Linked DNA regions of Homo sapiens. Changing the gene in region 3 together with the main gene of any one other region gives a genetic interaction. Each region holds a gene or a part of one and is shown on either strand. Other genes may lie near its edges.

Region 1 (3,500 bases), on a different chromosome or scaffold from region 3:
ATCCTTAGCTTCTCTCCTCCAAATATTTTGAATATTGCCAGCCTTTCTGCCTTTCAGAGGTGGGCTCTGGGTTCGAAGCCCGGTTAGAACTCTGGAGGCTAGGATGGCTTGAACCTGGGAGGTCGAGGCTGCAGAGAGCTGTAACCGCGCCACTGCACTCCAGCCTGGGCAACAGAGCTCTGGAAGCTTGCCCTAGAGTCAGTCAAGGGCCCTAGGCCAGTGAGTAACAGCTCAGCGTCAGTTTCCTCATCTATAAAATGGGGGTAATATCATACCTAGCTCTCAGCATGTTTGTGAGAGACCTAAATGAGGTGGTGGATTTGGAAGCATGTAGCGCAGTGCCTGGCACACAGTAGGTGCTTGATTTCCGGCCCCTCTCTGTGAATGTCTCTGCTCAGCGCCTTCCCCTGTGGCCTGGGTCTTACCTTCCCTGACGCTGCCTTCTCTAGGTGGTACCATGGCCACATGTCTGGCGGGCAGGCAGAGACGCTGCTGCAGGCCAAGGGCGAGCCCTGGACGTTTCTTGTGCGTGAGAGCCTCAGCCAGCCTGGAGACTTCGTGCTTTCTGTGCTCAGTGACCAGCCCAAGGCTGGCCCAGGCTCCCCGCTCAGGGTCACCCACATCAAGGTCATGTGCGAGGTAAGGCAGCCAGGCGGCGGGGGAGCCTCTGCTGAGGCTCCTGTCTGTGACCACAGTGTGGGTGGCAGGGAGGGTCTGCCTGGGCTTGAATTCAAGGCTGGGGACCCAGGGAGGGAGACTCAAGTCCTGTGAATGGCCTAATTTGGCTCCCCCCAGGGTGGACGCTACACAGTGGGTGGTTTGGAGACCTTCGACAGCCTCACGGACCTGGTGGAGCATTTCAAGAAGACGGGGATTGAGGAGGCCTCAGGCGCCTTTGTCTACCTGCGGCAGGTCAGGGGTGGGCCCAGCTGCCTCCCCACTTCCCCTGAGCTGTCCCCCAGATGTGAGCTTCTGGGATCTCTGAGTTGCTGACTTCTCGCTCTTCCCCACCCCAGCCGTACTATGCCACGAGGGTGAATGCGGCTGACATTGAGAACCGAGTGTTGGAACTGAACAAGAAGCAGGAGTCCGAGGATACAGCCAAGGCTGGCTTCTGGGAGGAGTTTGAGGTGCATGGTGGGGACCGGCAGGGCTGGGGCAGCTGAGGTGGTGGCAGCGGCCTGGGGCCCCAGGCGGACACCTTCCCCTCCTTGCCCACCTCTGCTCCTGACCCACCCCACGTGAGCTCCCCCGATGGATGCCCTCTTTGGGAGCTGATGCTCATTTCCCCACCCACATCTCAGAGTTTGCAGAAGCAGGAGGTGAAGAACTTGCACCAGCGTCTGGAAGGGCAGCGGCCAGAGAACAAGGGCAAGAACCGCTACAAGAACATTCTCCCCTGTGAGCACCCAGGCTGCCCCATTCACCCAGGATACCGCCCCTGCCCCAGCTGCCTCCCCTCATCTCACAGGTCTCCACCCTCCACGCCAGGAGGGGCCATCTCCCCACACCCCCCACAGAGCCTCCCCCTTCTCCAAAAGGCCTCTACTCCTCCCAGAAGTGCCTCCCCACCACCAGCAGGCAGGTTGCCCCCTGCTCCCAACCTCCTTGTGAACTCCCTCACTCCCTCCATACAGATGATCCCCCACCCCTGCTGCCCACAGTCCCCCGCAAGCCTCATGGCTTCTGAGACCAGAATGGCCTGTTAGCTCAGGAGGGTCTGACCCAGGTGTGGTGAGTCCCTGGCTAACCCAGACCATCTCGCCTCCTCTCCGCCCACTCCCAGTTGACCACAGCCGAGTGATCCTGCAGGGACGGGACAGTAACATCCCCGGGTCCGACTACATCAATGCCAACTACATCAAGGTCAGCAGTGTGGGCCACGTGGGAGGAGAGGCTGGGCCCTGGGAATTCCCTGTCTGGTGGGGGGACCCTAGATCCAGAGACAGCTGGGCAAAGCCGAAGCTGGCTTCTTGCATGGGTGAGGGTGGCAGTGGTTCAGGGCCTGTGCTGGGCCAAGGGGCTCACTGTCTTGGGGTGCGTCTCTCCACGCTTGCGTCCAGAACCAGCTGCTAGGCCCTGATGAGAACGCTAAGACCTACATCGCCAGCCAGGGTTGTCTGGAGGCCACGGTCAATGACTTCTGGCAGATGGCGTGGCAGGAGAACAGCCGTGTCATCGTCATGACCACCCGAGAGGTGGAGAAAGGCCGGGTAGGGCGCCCCCCCTTCCCCGCATCCGCCCCCGTGCTTGTGGTCATGCCATTAAGTCGAAGAGCAGTCAGATGCCAGGGCAGAAAGGGATCTCAGGGGTGAGGGTCCGGCCCTTGTTGGGAAACTGAGGGCTAGTGACAAAGTCTCGACTACACAACGTGACCCCCAGATCCCTGCATGCATCCCTGGGCTCTTCTGAGCTCCAGACCCAGGTTCCAGGCTGTCCTCCTTCCTCCTACCCCTGCCCCACCTGTCTGCATCCAGGCCCCTCCTGTCCTCCCTGCCCCATAGATCTCTCTGGAGTCTGCCCCTTACCCTGCAGGCTCCCCCTACACAGCACCCTCTGTGCTGCCATTGAAGTGATCCCATCCGTGACACAAACTGGGTCAAGTTCCTTCCTTTCTGAAATCTCTTCCATGGCTCCTGGTCACCTTTGGGATAAAGTCGCACTCTAAGGCCTGGCATTCAAGGTCTGGTGGCTTCCCTCTGACCCGCACGCTTCTCTTGAAGGCTCACCGCCCCCAGCAGCCCCAGCTCTTTCAGGTTCCCAGCCTTTCTTTGCACAAGCTCATTTTCTGCTAGGAAATGACTCTCTCCACACTATCTCTGCCTGGCAGATGCCTCGTTTTTGAAGACACAGCCGGAGCGCTGCCTCCTCTGTGAATCCAGGTCTTGTTTCCTCCAGGACCTAGAGGGAGAATTACGTCTTTCCCAGCCACGCTCCTCAGCGCGGTGTCTCCCCCGGTCACCTGTCTCTGTGAGCTCCTCGAGGCACAGGGGCACAGACTGGGTGTTATTTGTGTCTGTGAAGCTGTGTGGTTTGCACAGCTTCGGGGACAATGCCTGCCCTGGCAACGTTTGTTGAATGACAAACGGATGTACCGGTGAAGTGGCTGGCCAGGCCTCACCACCTGTTGGTGGTTGATCTGAGACGAGAGCCCAGGTCTCCTGCCTCTCTGCCAGCCCATCCGTCCATCCAACAAATGTTTGGGCCGGTGCCAGGCACTCAGAACATAGAGCAGGACCTGGGATGGGCCACAGTGCCCTGCTCTGTGCCTCATCCCCACCCGACCCTCCCTTTCCAGAACAAATGCGTCCCATACTGGCCCGAGGTGGGCATGCAGCGTGCTTATGGGCCCTACTCTGTGACCAACTGCGGGGAGCATGACACAACCGAATACAAACTCCGTACCTTACAGGTCTCCCCGCTGGACAATGTGAGTGGCCCCCACGCCCTGCCCCATTCCGGGAGTCCCTCCCTGGACTTGTTCTCCTCTCTGGTCGGGT
Region 2 (4,140 bases), on a different chromosome or scaffold from region 3:
GGGGTTTCTCGGACTTCTCCATGTTAATATTCGTGTGTATAAATCGCTCCCGTGCTGCTCTCTGGGGGCCCCTCTTTCACAAACACCTGGCCACCCTCACGCCACAATGGCCAGGCAGGAACCTCGACCTCCCCTCGGAGAGGGGGCTCAGGGTCAACCCCGGGGTCTCAGTCTCTACATGTGACGTTTTCCTGTCCCCTCATTTAAAATAACAAGAGGCTGGGCGCAGTGGCTTACGCCTGTAATCCCAGCACTTTGGGAGGCCGAGGCGGGCGATCACGAGGTCAGGAGATGGAGACCATCCTGGCCAACACGGTGAAACCCCGCCTCTACTAAACTACAAAAAATTAGCCGGGTGTGGTGGCGGGCGCCTGTAGTCCCAGCTACTCGGGAGGCTGAGGCAGGAGAATTGCTTGAACCCGGAGGCGAAGGTTGCAGTGAGCTGAGATCTCGCCACTGCACTCCAGCCTGGTGACAGAGCCTGACTCCGTCTCAAAAAATAAGAAAAAAAAATAAAATAAAAATAATAGAGGCCGAAGCGGGAGGTTCACTTGAGCTCAGAAGTTCGAGATCAGCCTGGGCAACACAGTGAGACCTCGTTTCTATTTAAAAAATAAAATAAAACTAAATTTAAAAAAATGCACGCTCATAGTACAAACTTTAGAAATGGAACGAAAAACTAAAATTGAAGGTATTCCCCTCCAACCCAGAGATAACACCTATCGTTTATTAAGCCCTCACTATTGTTAAACTTAGTTTTAAAGGGCACGATCTCATTTCTTAAAGACTTCTATTCCGCAGAATTTCTTTCCAGGCTTTTTTCTTTTTCTTTTTTTGAGACGGAGTCTCGCTCTGTCGCCCAGGCCGGGGTGCAGTGGCGCGATCTCGGCTCACTGAAACCTCTGTCCAGTCTTTTCGAACCCAAGGCCCAACTGCGCTCTATCTCGACTTTCGGCTCCACTCGGATCCCGAAGTGGCGCACGAGATAAAATGTTGTCAGGCTGAGGTAATTCTCTGTTAGTCCCGGTAAAAATTCGTCAGTCTGGAAAGCTCTCGGTTTGGAATTAAATTCTGTCACTCCGGATGGAAATAAGTCCGCTTAAGGGGGGAAAATCCGTTTGTGGAGGACACGCTCCCGCACGTAACCCCCCGCGGAAAATGACCCCAAGTACCTTTGGCCAGGGATTGCCGCTGCCACGCCGGACTCCATAGCCACGGTCCTGAAACGCCCCGCCGGGCAGGCCGGACCAATGGACGCCGAGCTCGGCCGTGCGTCACGCGACGCTGGCCAATCGCGGAGGGCCACGACCGTAGAAAGGCCGGGCGCGGCGAGGCTGGGCGCTGGGCGGCTGCGGCGCGCGGTGCGCGGTGCGTAGTCTGGAGCTATGGTGGTGGTGGCAGCCGCGCCGAACCCGGCCGACGGGACCCCTAAAGTTCTGCTTCTGTCGGGGCAGCCCGCCTCCGCCGCCGGAGCCCCGGCCGGCCAGGCCCTGCCGCTCATGGTGCCAGCCCAGAGAGGGGCCAGCCCGGAGGCAGCGAGCGGGGGGCTGCCCCAGGCGCGCAAGCGACAGCGCCTCACGCACCTGAGCCCCGAGGAGAAGGCGCTGAGGAGGTGGGCGAGGGGCCGGGGTCTGGGGCCAGATCTGAAGCCGGGACTAGGGACAGGGGCAGGGGCAGGGGCTGGGAGCGGGGACCCAGCACTGGCCGCCCCGCAGGGCTCCGTCGCCTTTGGCCTGGCGGGTCGGTGCCAGCGTGGCGCGGGGCGGGGCAGGAAGCCCGGACTGACCGGATCCGCCACGCTGGGAACCTAGGGCGGCCCAGGGCTCTTTTCTGTACTTTTTAACTCTCTCGTTAGAGATGACCAGAGCTGGGGATGCGGGCACCTGTCTTCCAGGCCCTCTTGCTGTGTGGCCGCAGACTGGTGGTTCAGCCTCTTAACTCGGACATGAGGTCGAATAATCTGTTTTGGTTTACTGCTATTTCTGGAGAGGCGCGGAGCTGAAATAACAGAGCTGTTGAAAGGGCTGGGAATTCTGCGAGGCTCACTGGTCTAGCTCAGTATCTGCGTTCTTAAAATGGAACCTACTTCATGAGGTCTTTGGGGAGATTGAGACTTGGATATAATGTGCCTAGCACTTAGTCCTCCGTAAATGTTCACTCTTTTGTGATCATTGTGCCTTCTGTGATTTATGAAGTGTCTCTTCTGAGTTAATTCTTTTAAAAAAAAAAGTGTCTCCTCCAACAGACACGGACCCATCAGCAGGTCACTGCCTAGGATCTCAACACTAGAGATCAGGGAGTGGCATCAGCCTCTCCCTTTTCTAAATTGGACTGGGGGACGGAGGGTTGATGTCATAGCAAGATTGCAGCCTTCACTAGATTAATGAGGCCAGGTTGGATCCTGTTTAAGAGAACTGGAGACAGGAAGCAGCGGGGGAATAGATGGGGAAAGAGGAAAGTTCCTTATGATGCAAGATGAATAGTGTGTGTGTCCAGCCCCAGTGCTGTGACGGGGATGAGTCTGAGGTGGACGGATGATGCAATATAGGAGAGAATAAAGCAGGTCTTCGAGCTAGATTGACAGAAGACTGTATTTTTTATTTTGTTTTATTGAGGGGAGGAGCCTGAAGTGTATTTTATCATTAGTCTGTCTTATACTGTAAATAAAAATGAAAGCACCAGCTGGTAAAGTTTTCAAATAAAGACATAAATAAGGTTTGATATGACTCAGTGTGGTATGTTCCTTCTCTTCCTAGGAAACTGAAAAACAGAGTAGCAGCTCAGACTGCCAGAGATCGAAAGAAGGCTCGAATGAGTGAGCTGGAACAGCAAGTGGTAGATTTAGAAGAAGAGGTAAAACTACTTAAGGTCAAACTCTTTTATCCATTGTATACCCTTCCTTGGTGAATGTTCTGATATTTGCTTCCCATCCCAAGTTGTTTCAGCCCCTATTAGAATACAATTGAATATATGATTAAAAGTTAAACTAGGCTGGGCATGGTGGCTCATGCCTGTAATCCCAGCACTTTGGGAGCCTGAGTTGGGCAGATCACTTGAAGCCAGCAGTTTGAGACCAGCCTAGCCAACATGGTAAAATCCCGTCTCTACCCAAAAATATACCAAAAAAAAAAAAAAAAAAAAGGCCAAGCGTGAGTGCCTGTAGTCCCAGCTACTCGGGAGGTTGAGGTGGGAGGATTGTTTGAACCTGGGAGAGGGAGGTTGCAGTGAGCTGAGATCGCACCACTGCACTCCAGCCTGGGCAACAGAGTGAGACTCTGTCTCAAGAAAAAAAAAAAAAGTTTGCTGGGCACCGGGGCTCACACCTGTAATCCCAGCACTTTGGGAGGCCAAGGTGGGTAGATAACTTGAGATCAGGAGTTCGAGACCAGCCTGACCAACGTGGTGAAACCCCATCTCTATTAAAAATACAAAAATTAGCCGGGTGTCGTGGCAGGCACCTGTAATCCCAGCTGCTCCGGAGGCTGACGCAGGAGAATCACTTGAACCCAGGAGGCGGAGGTTGCAGTGAGCTGAGATCACGAGATCATGCCACTGCACTCCAGTCTGGGCGACAGAGCAAAAACCCTGTCTCAAAAAAAAAAAAAAAGTTAATCTAAGTTAGGACAGAGAGTTGGTGAAGTGGTGAAGCTTGTTGAGGGCAGAAGTGATTGACTTTGTGGCATTTGGTGCTAGATGTATCTCAAAGTAGATGGATTTAACAATGTTTATTGAGTTTGTAGTAAGAAATTAGCAAGGGCTAATAGGAAATAATTGCTTAAACTTTACATTCTTCCTGGCATGGCCAGAAATTCACTAAAGGTTCCTTTCCCCCTCTAGGGTCCACCTGTTAATCAATCTTAAATTGTTGCCAATTACACATCTTGAATACATAGAGATTATTTATATTGTTTTTTTAACCCCTTGGTCAATTTGCATATATTGAGCTTTTTAAAGTTTTAATCATTAGTTGGTTCTTCTAAGAATCATGAGTCAGGAGCAGGGATTTTTTTTAACTTATTTTGGATTTATAGTCACCACTACCACTTTTATTATTACCTGCCAGTTCAAGATAGTTATTTATTTTTATTTTATATTATTATTATTATTATTATCATCATCATTATTTTGAGATGGAGTCTC
Region 3 (3,500 bases):
TACTCTGCTAAAAAAGTGGAAAAAAGGGCTGGGCGCAGTGGCTCACACCTGTAATCCCAGCACTTTGGGAGGCCGAGGTGGGCAGATCACCTGAGGCCGGGAGTTTGAGACCAGCCTGACCAACACGGAGAAACCTCATCTCTACTAAAAATACAAAATTGGCCCGGCATGGTGGCGCATGAATGTAATCCCAGCTGCTGGGAGGTTGAGGCAGGAGAATCGCTTAAACCTGGGAGGCAGAGGTTACGGTGAGCCGAGATTGTGCCATTGCACTCCAGCCTGGGCAACAAGGGGGAAACGCTGTCTCAAAAAAAAAAAAAAAGTGGAAAAATAAATAAATAAATAAATAAGTGGTTTTAAGATTGTTCTTAGAACCACTGTGATATTCTGACTCCCTCATTGACTTTTGGATGGAATGAGTAAGGGTTTATCAGGTGGACAAGAGTGAGAAAAAACATTCAGAATAGAAAGGGAGCTTCATATGCAAAGGCAAAGAGGCAGCAAAGACCATGACTTTAAAAAGTAGGAATGATGTGGCGTGGTGGCCCACACCTATAATCCCAGCATTTTGGGAGGCCAAGGCAGGCAGATTGCTTTGAGCTCTGGAGTTTGAGACCAGCCTGGGCAACATGGCAAAATGTTGTCTCTACAAAAAATACAAAAAAATTAGCCAGGCATGGTGACTCATGCCTGTAGTTCCAGCTACTTGGGAGGCTGAGGTGGGAGGATCGCTTGAGCCTGGGAAGCAGATATTGCAGTGAGTCAAGATTGTACCACTGCACTCCAGCCTGGGCGACAGAATGAGACCCTGTTTCAAAAAAAAAAAAGGAACTTTTTAACTTTTTAGGGTCTTTTATTTTATTTTATTATTATTATTTTTTGAGCCGGTGTCTTGCTCTGCTGCCCAGGCTGGAGACCAGTGATGCAATCTTGGCTTACTGCAACCTCCACCTCCTGGGTTCAAGCAATCCTCCTGCCTCAGCCTCCTGAGTAGCTGGGATTACAGGCCCCTGCCATCATGCCCAGCTAATTTTTGTATTTTTAGTAGAGTGGGGGTTTCACCATGCTGGCCAGGCTGGTCTCAAACTCCTGACCTCAGTTGATCTGCCTGCTTTGGCCTCCCAAAGTGCTGGGATTACAAGCATGAGCCACTGCCCCCAGCCGAGGGGCTATTTTAGACAAAGAATATGTGTAGCTTATATGGGGCACCAATGGCTGCCACCCAGCTTGAAAAATAACATCACCAAAACTGAGGCTGCATGTATGTATGCCCTTCCCTGTTAGTTCCCCCACACTCCCTGCCGCTTGCCACTATTCTCAATTTTTTTGTGTGAGCTTCTCTGGGGTATAGTCCTAGAAGTGGAATTGCTGAAATATAGGATATGAAGTGCTTTAGCTTTGTAAGATAATGCCAAATTGTTATTCAAATTCATATTAATTTAGATACATACCAGCCACTTGGTCTGCATTTTTTACCAACTTAAAAACAATTTTTTTTTTGAGACAGGGTCTTACTCTGTTGTCCAGGCTGGAGTACAGTGGTGTGATCGTGGCTCACTGCAGCCTTGACCTCCTAGGCTCAAGTGATCCTCCCACTTCAGCCTCTCAAGTAGCTGGGACTACAGGCACATGCCACCATGCCCTACTAATTTTTAAATTTTTTGTAGAGATGGAGTTTTGCTATGATGCCCAGGCTGTTCTCAAACTCCTTGGCTCAAGTGATCCTCCTGCATCGGCCTCCTAAAATGCTGGATTATAGGCGTGAGCACCTGGCCTTTTAAGTATTATCAGATTTAAAGTGTTTTGCTATTTCAGGAATGTAAAGTGGTATATCATTATAATCTTATTTTGTAATTTTCCTGATTATTAATGAAGCTAATAATCTTTTCATATATTTATTTGCTGTTTATGTTTCCTATTCTGTGAAACACCTATTCATCTCTGTTGCCAATTTTGGGGAGGGGTTATATGTCTAGTTCTTATAGTTTTGTAGCAGTTATTGTATACTCTGGATATTACTCCTTTATATTAGTTATATGTGCCTCAAATATTTTCTTCTGGTTTGTGCCTTATCTTTTCCCTCTTTTTTATGTTGTCTTTTGAACAGGCATTTTTAATTTTAACATGGTTGAATTCACCAATTTTTTAAAGAGGTTTTGCTTTTTGTTTCTTGTTTAGGTACTTCTCCCTTATGCTGAGTTTATAAAAATACTCTCCTGTAGCCAGGTGCTGTGGCACACACCTGTTGTCCCAGCTACCCAAGAGGCTGTTGTGGAAGGATTGCTTGAGCCTAGGAGTTTGAGTCCAGCCTGGGCAACATGGCAAGACCCTATCTCTAAAAAAAAATCAAAAAGAAAATATTCTCATATATTAGCTTCTAAGAGATTTCAAGTTTTGCTTTTCATATTTAAATAACCTGAGATATATTTTTGGTATTCCATTAAATAAGAATACAATTTATTGTTTCTTTTTCTCCTGCTTTTGTTGGATATAGACAGAGTTGCCAAGTGATACAGTGACTCCTCTTTGGATCCTGTTGAGGTAACTGGGATGCCACAAAGCACTAGGGGAATGTTCTAGACCCAGCTTTAAATGGACAGTGGTTTCAAGGGTACATGTTACTCAGAGTCTCTGGGCCAGTGGCTTATCTGGCTAAGGGTGTTAGTTGGTATTTATTTAGTTGTTCCCTCTCTTATTTATTTTTTTCTATTAATTTTTCATTTGTGTGGGTACATAATGAATGTATTTCTCTTGTTATTTCTGACACAAGATAAATCTTAAGTTCGTTTCTACTATACTTTTATGAGGTTTCTGCAGGCCTTTATGACCTTGTGACAAGGGATTTCTTGGCCATTGGCTACCAGGCAGCAAGTGGTTCATCAGTTTCCCATCTGAAGCTGAAGGGCACAACTGTTTGGAGATTCCCTGAGTGAGGGGACATACTCAGAGACCTAGAAGGAGATTAGGCAGCTCTGCATAGTACTTGAAAATAATTCCTCTTCATTCCCTAGATGTTTCTTTTTTTTTGAGACAGAGTCTCACTCTGTTGCCCAGGTTGGAATGCAGTGGCGCGATCTCGGCTCACTGTAACCTCCACCTCCTGGGTTCAAGTGATTCTCCTGCCTCAGCCTCCCAAGCAGCTGGGATTACAGGTGTGTGTCACCACACCTGGCTAATTTTTGTATTTTTAGTTGAGGTGGCGTTTCACCATGTTGGCCAGGCTGGTCTTGAACTCCCAACCTCAGGTGATCTGCCCACCTCAGCCTCCCAGAGTGCTGGGATTATAGGCGTGAACCACTGCGCCCAGCCCTAGATGTTTCTTTTTTACAATGATTTTTTGCTTAGACCTTTGCTGTCTTAGAAAGTGGTTACTTCTTTTCTAAAGGGCTTATTCATTTTTAGTCAATCAGCTGATTAAAATTTAAAAGTAGTTAATAGGTAATATATGTTTGTGACACAAAATTCAAAAGGTAAAAAAGAATATACAGAGAAAAGTTAGT
Region 4 (3,500 bases), on a different chromosome or scaffold from region 3:
TGGGACTACAGGCGCCCGCCACCACGCCCGGCTAATTTTTTGTATTTTTTGTATTTTTTGTATTTCACCGTGTTAGCCAGGATGGTCTCAATCCCCTGACCTCATGATCCGCCCGCCTCTGCCTCCCAAAGTGCTGGGATTACAGGCATGAGCCACCACGCCCGGCCGTTCCACTTTTTCTTATATTTTGACGACTGCTTCAAGGATTCTCCCTATGCATCATTTTAGCTTCTGGAGTGCAACTCCTAAGTGCCAGAGCTCCTTTTCATATGGTAGGCCACATTCTAGGTCTCAGTTCAGCCAATGGATTGTCTTGTCTTTGGTCATATTTCCACCCCTGCTTTAGGCAGCTGTGGTTTGATTTGAGGTAGGAGGAGAACTGGAGACTGGTGCAGAACCTGGCCAGCTGAGCTTAGCATTTGGTGGTTGTGCTGAATGAGGCAGTCTTTTTTTTGAGATGGAGTTGCGCTCTTTTTGCCCAGGCTGGAGTGCAATGGCATGATCTCGGCTCACTGCAACCTCTGCCTCCCAGGTTCAAGCAATTCTCCTGCCTCAGCCTCCCAAGTAGCTGGGATTATAGGCGCGTACCACTACTCCCGGCTAATTTTTGTATTTTTAGTAGAGACGGGGTTTCACAATATTGTCCAGGTTGGTCTCAAACTCCTGACCTCAGGTGATCCGCCCGTCTCCCAAAGTGCTGGGATTACAGGCGTGAGCCACTGTGCCTAGCCTGAGGCAGTCTTTCTTATAAGGGTCTCTGTGAATATAGTGCCTTGGTTAATCTGACTGATTCACCTTCTTTCTGTCTAGGAACATCTCAGTATCCAGTGAATGCACCTATGTTATCATATACCACTCTGTGTTGCAGTTGTGTATTTGCCCATCTCCTGGGATAAACTATAAGCTGCTTGAACAGAGACTAGGTTTCATTCATCATTGCAATGCTTGTCTAAAATAAGGCCTGGCACATAGTAGGACCTTATCCTAAGGAATTAGTGAACAGACGAGCAAGCACTGTCTTTGCCTCATCTCTGATCTTTCCCTCTTCCATTCTCTTTATTTGCTTCCTCCCACTCTGACTCTAGCTATACTGAACACCTTACAGTTCTTTGAATATAATGTTCTCTTTACCTGGATCAATGTTTGACTTTCTGTGTCCCCTATGTGTCCCATTGGCTTATAACTTCTTTTTTCCCCCTCACCAAAAGTTGTATGAAAAGATACTGTAGTACCATTACATCCTGTTTTACATGGCACTTTTCATGTAGTGTAGTGTTTACTTTGTGAACTCTTTAATGTCTTACTCATCTTTGTGTCTTTAGTTTAACGTACACATTGTTGTATAACTGAGTTAAACATCTTAGTCTTCTTGAGAAGCCTTGTGGTATGGTAGAGACTAGATCTGAAGTAAGATAGATTTGGTTCAGATCCCAGCAGCTCCACCATTTAAAGGTTATGTGGGTCTTGCAGGGATTACTTAACCCTTCTTCTCTGGTCCTGTTTCTGTAATATGGGAATCGTAGAGCTCATAAACTTGTTAGAAGGACTGATTGAGATGGGTGAGGTTTTTATTGTGCAGGGCCCATTATGGTGCTCCATAGATGTTAGTACTCTTTTCTTTCCTCTGTATTGAATGAAAATTGAATTGCTTCTCAGAGCCCCTCATGCTATATGTCATTGAAATAAGTAGATATGGAGTATTTTAATGAGAGGAATTATGAGTAGTTTGTGATTCTTTCATTCATTCAACAAATATTTATGTAATATTTAGTATGTGTCAGACCTGGCTGAGAATATGGGGATAAACGGGACAAGGTCCTCAAGCTCTTGTGGGGAACAAAGACAAAAAACAAGTTAAAATAATAGAATTTCAGGTAGTGATAAGCACTATAATGAAAGTTCAGGCACTAGGGAGTAGGGGGTGACTGATGGGTTAAAGGGTGTTTGAGTGGTCAGGGGAGGCCTTTCTGAAGCAGAGAGAGATAAATGGATTGAAATGATGGGTGGTCCTCTCCTGCAAAGATTTCTATTTCAGACCTATATTGAGATGCATTTTGTGTTAAGATCTCCAAACTGAGTCTATTCCATACTTCCCTACTCATTTCATAAAGTGAGGCTAAATCAGGCTAACTAGTGTCAGGTATAAAGACTTTGCTGCACATAATTGAAGCAGGAAGTATCAACTCGTCATTTACAGTGAATATAGAAGTTTCCTCCATTACTTCAGGTCCATAATAAAAGCCTGTTGTAGGGACTCAGAAATTTGGGTAATATTTTTATTATTATTTTGCTCTGGCTGGAGTGCAGTGGCATGATCATAGCTCGCTGCAACCTCGAACTCCTGGCCTCAAGTGATCCTCCCACAGCACTGAGATTACAGGCATGAACCCCTGCACCTGGCTGAAAATTTGGATCTTATACCAAGTTATGATTTCTGTCCTTCCCAACTAGCTTATAGATAAGAAAGCCAAACAGATCCCTTAAAGAGTTCAGCCTTGAATCACAGGCCTACCACAACTTAAGCCTAAAAATTATGAAGAAGTAACTTGGCAGTTGGGAAACTATTGGCTTATAACTTCTTTTTTCCCTCACCCAAAGCTGTATGAGAAGATACTATAGGCCAGGCATGAGGACAGAGAGGAGAGGGAGGAGGAAGGAGAAAAGGACAGTGGTGGGGGTGGGGGCGAGGAGGAGAAAAGAGAGAGAGGCAGAGGGGCGAAGAGGCAGGGGAGGGAGGAAGGAAGGAAAAGATGGTATATATGCTATAGTTTTCAGATTATTTTGTTTGGAATTACTGTATTTCAGCTTTTTTATTACTGGTATCTGTACTGAGGTCTGTTCTGTGCTGACAAGGAGAAAGAATAGGATGCTTCGGCTGGGCGTGGTGGCTCACGCCTGTAATCCCAGCACTTTGGGAAGCTGAGGTGGGTGGATCACGAGGTCAGGAGAATGAGACCATCCTGGCCAACATGGTGAAACCCTGTCTCTACTGAAAATACAAAAATTAGCCAGGCGTGGTAGTGTGCACCTGTGGTCCCAGCTACTCAGGAGGCTGAGGCAGGAGAATCGCTTGAACCTGGGAAGTGGAGGTTGCAGTGAGCCGAGATCACGCCACTGCACTCCAGCCTGGGCGACAGAGTGAGACTCCGTCTCAAAAAAAAAAAAAAAAAAAAGGAATAGGATGCATGTTGCTCAGTCATCGAAATGAACCATCCTTTTTATCAATAACGATCCCATGAACCCTTACTTATGCCAGACTTTTTCTGTAGGGAGAAATATGGCCCTTTCAGCGTGAATTTAACGTGACTGTTGTTCACTGGGTTAGAAACAGGTCAATAAATAGATGGTTCAGTACAGAAGGCTAATTGGTACATTGACATTTAATAATATAAATCGAATTTCTTTTTGTATTATATACAAAGTTCCTAGCTTTTAATTATAACTTGACCTTTGCGTCCTTCTCCATAAAAGTTAAAGGATACATTGCTTCATTTAAATCT

The links. Genes that interact genetically often act in the same process or in processes that back each other up.
Region 1: changes in GBF1 (region 3) and PTPN6 together harm fitness more than expected from each alone (negative genetic interaction), as found in Homo sapiens cells (one study listed by BioGRID).
Region 2: changes in GBF1 (region 3) and XBP1 together harm fitness less than expected from each alone (positive genetic interaction), as found in Homo sapiens cells (one study listed by BioGRID).
Region 4: changes in GBF1 (region 3) and TMED10 together harm fitness more than expected from each alone (negative genetic interaction), as found in Homo sapiens cells (one study listed by BioGRID).

Annotation. Positions count from the first base shown.
Region 1 is NC_000012.12:6,954,356-6,957,855, forward strand, and holds part of PTPN6 (tyrosine-protein phosphatase non-receptor type 6), read left to right. Parts: intron 1-449; coding exon 450-639; intron 640-795; coding exon 796-912; intron 913-1,016; coding exon 1,017-1,130; intron 1,131-1,304; coding exon 1,305-1,401; intron 1,402-1,786; coding exon 1,787-1,866; intron 1,867-2,063; coding exon 2,064-2,213; intron 2,214-3,298; coding exon 3,299-3,430; intron 3,431-3,500. UniProt on the Homo sapiens protein: Tyrosine phosphatase enzyme that plays important roles in controlling immune signaling pathways and fundamental physiological processes such as hematopoiesis.
Region 2 is NC_000022.11:28,797,770-28,801,909, reverse strand, and holds the start of XBP1 (X-box-binding protein 1), read left to right. Parts: upstream 1-1,340; 5' UTR 1,341-1,385; coding exon 1,386-1,612; intron 1,613-1,832; exon of another isoform or gene 1,833-1,873; coding exon of another isoform or gene 1,874-1,950; intron 1,951-2,756; coding exon 2,757-2,853; intron 2,854-4,140. UniProt on the Homo sapiens protein: Functions as a transcription factor during endoplasmic reticulum (ER) stress by regulating the unfolded protein response (UPR).
Region 3 is NC_000010.11:102,252,032-102,255,531, forward strand, and holds part of GBF1 (Golgi-specific brefeldin A-resistance guanine nucleotide exchange factor 1), read left to right. Parts: intron 1-3,500. UniProt on the Homo sapiens protein: Guanine-nucleotide exchange factor (GEF) for members of the Arf family of small GTPases involved in trafficking in the early secretory pathway; its GEF activity initiates the coating of nascent vesicles via the localized generation of activated ARFs through replacement of GDP with GTP.
Region 4 is NC_000014.9:75,166,613-75,170,112, reverse strand, and holds part of TMED10 (transmembrane emp24 domain-containing protein 10 precursor), read left to right. Parts: intron 1-3,500. UniProt on the Homo sapiens protein: Cargo receptor involved in protein vesicular trafficking and quality control in the endoplasmic reticulum (ER) and Golgi.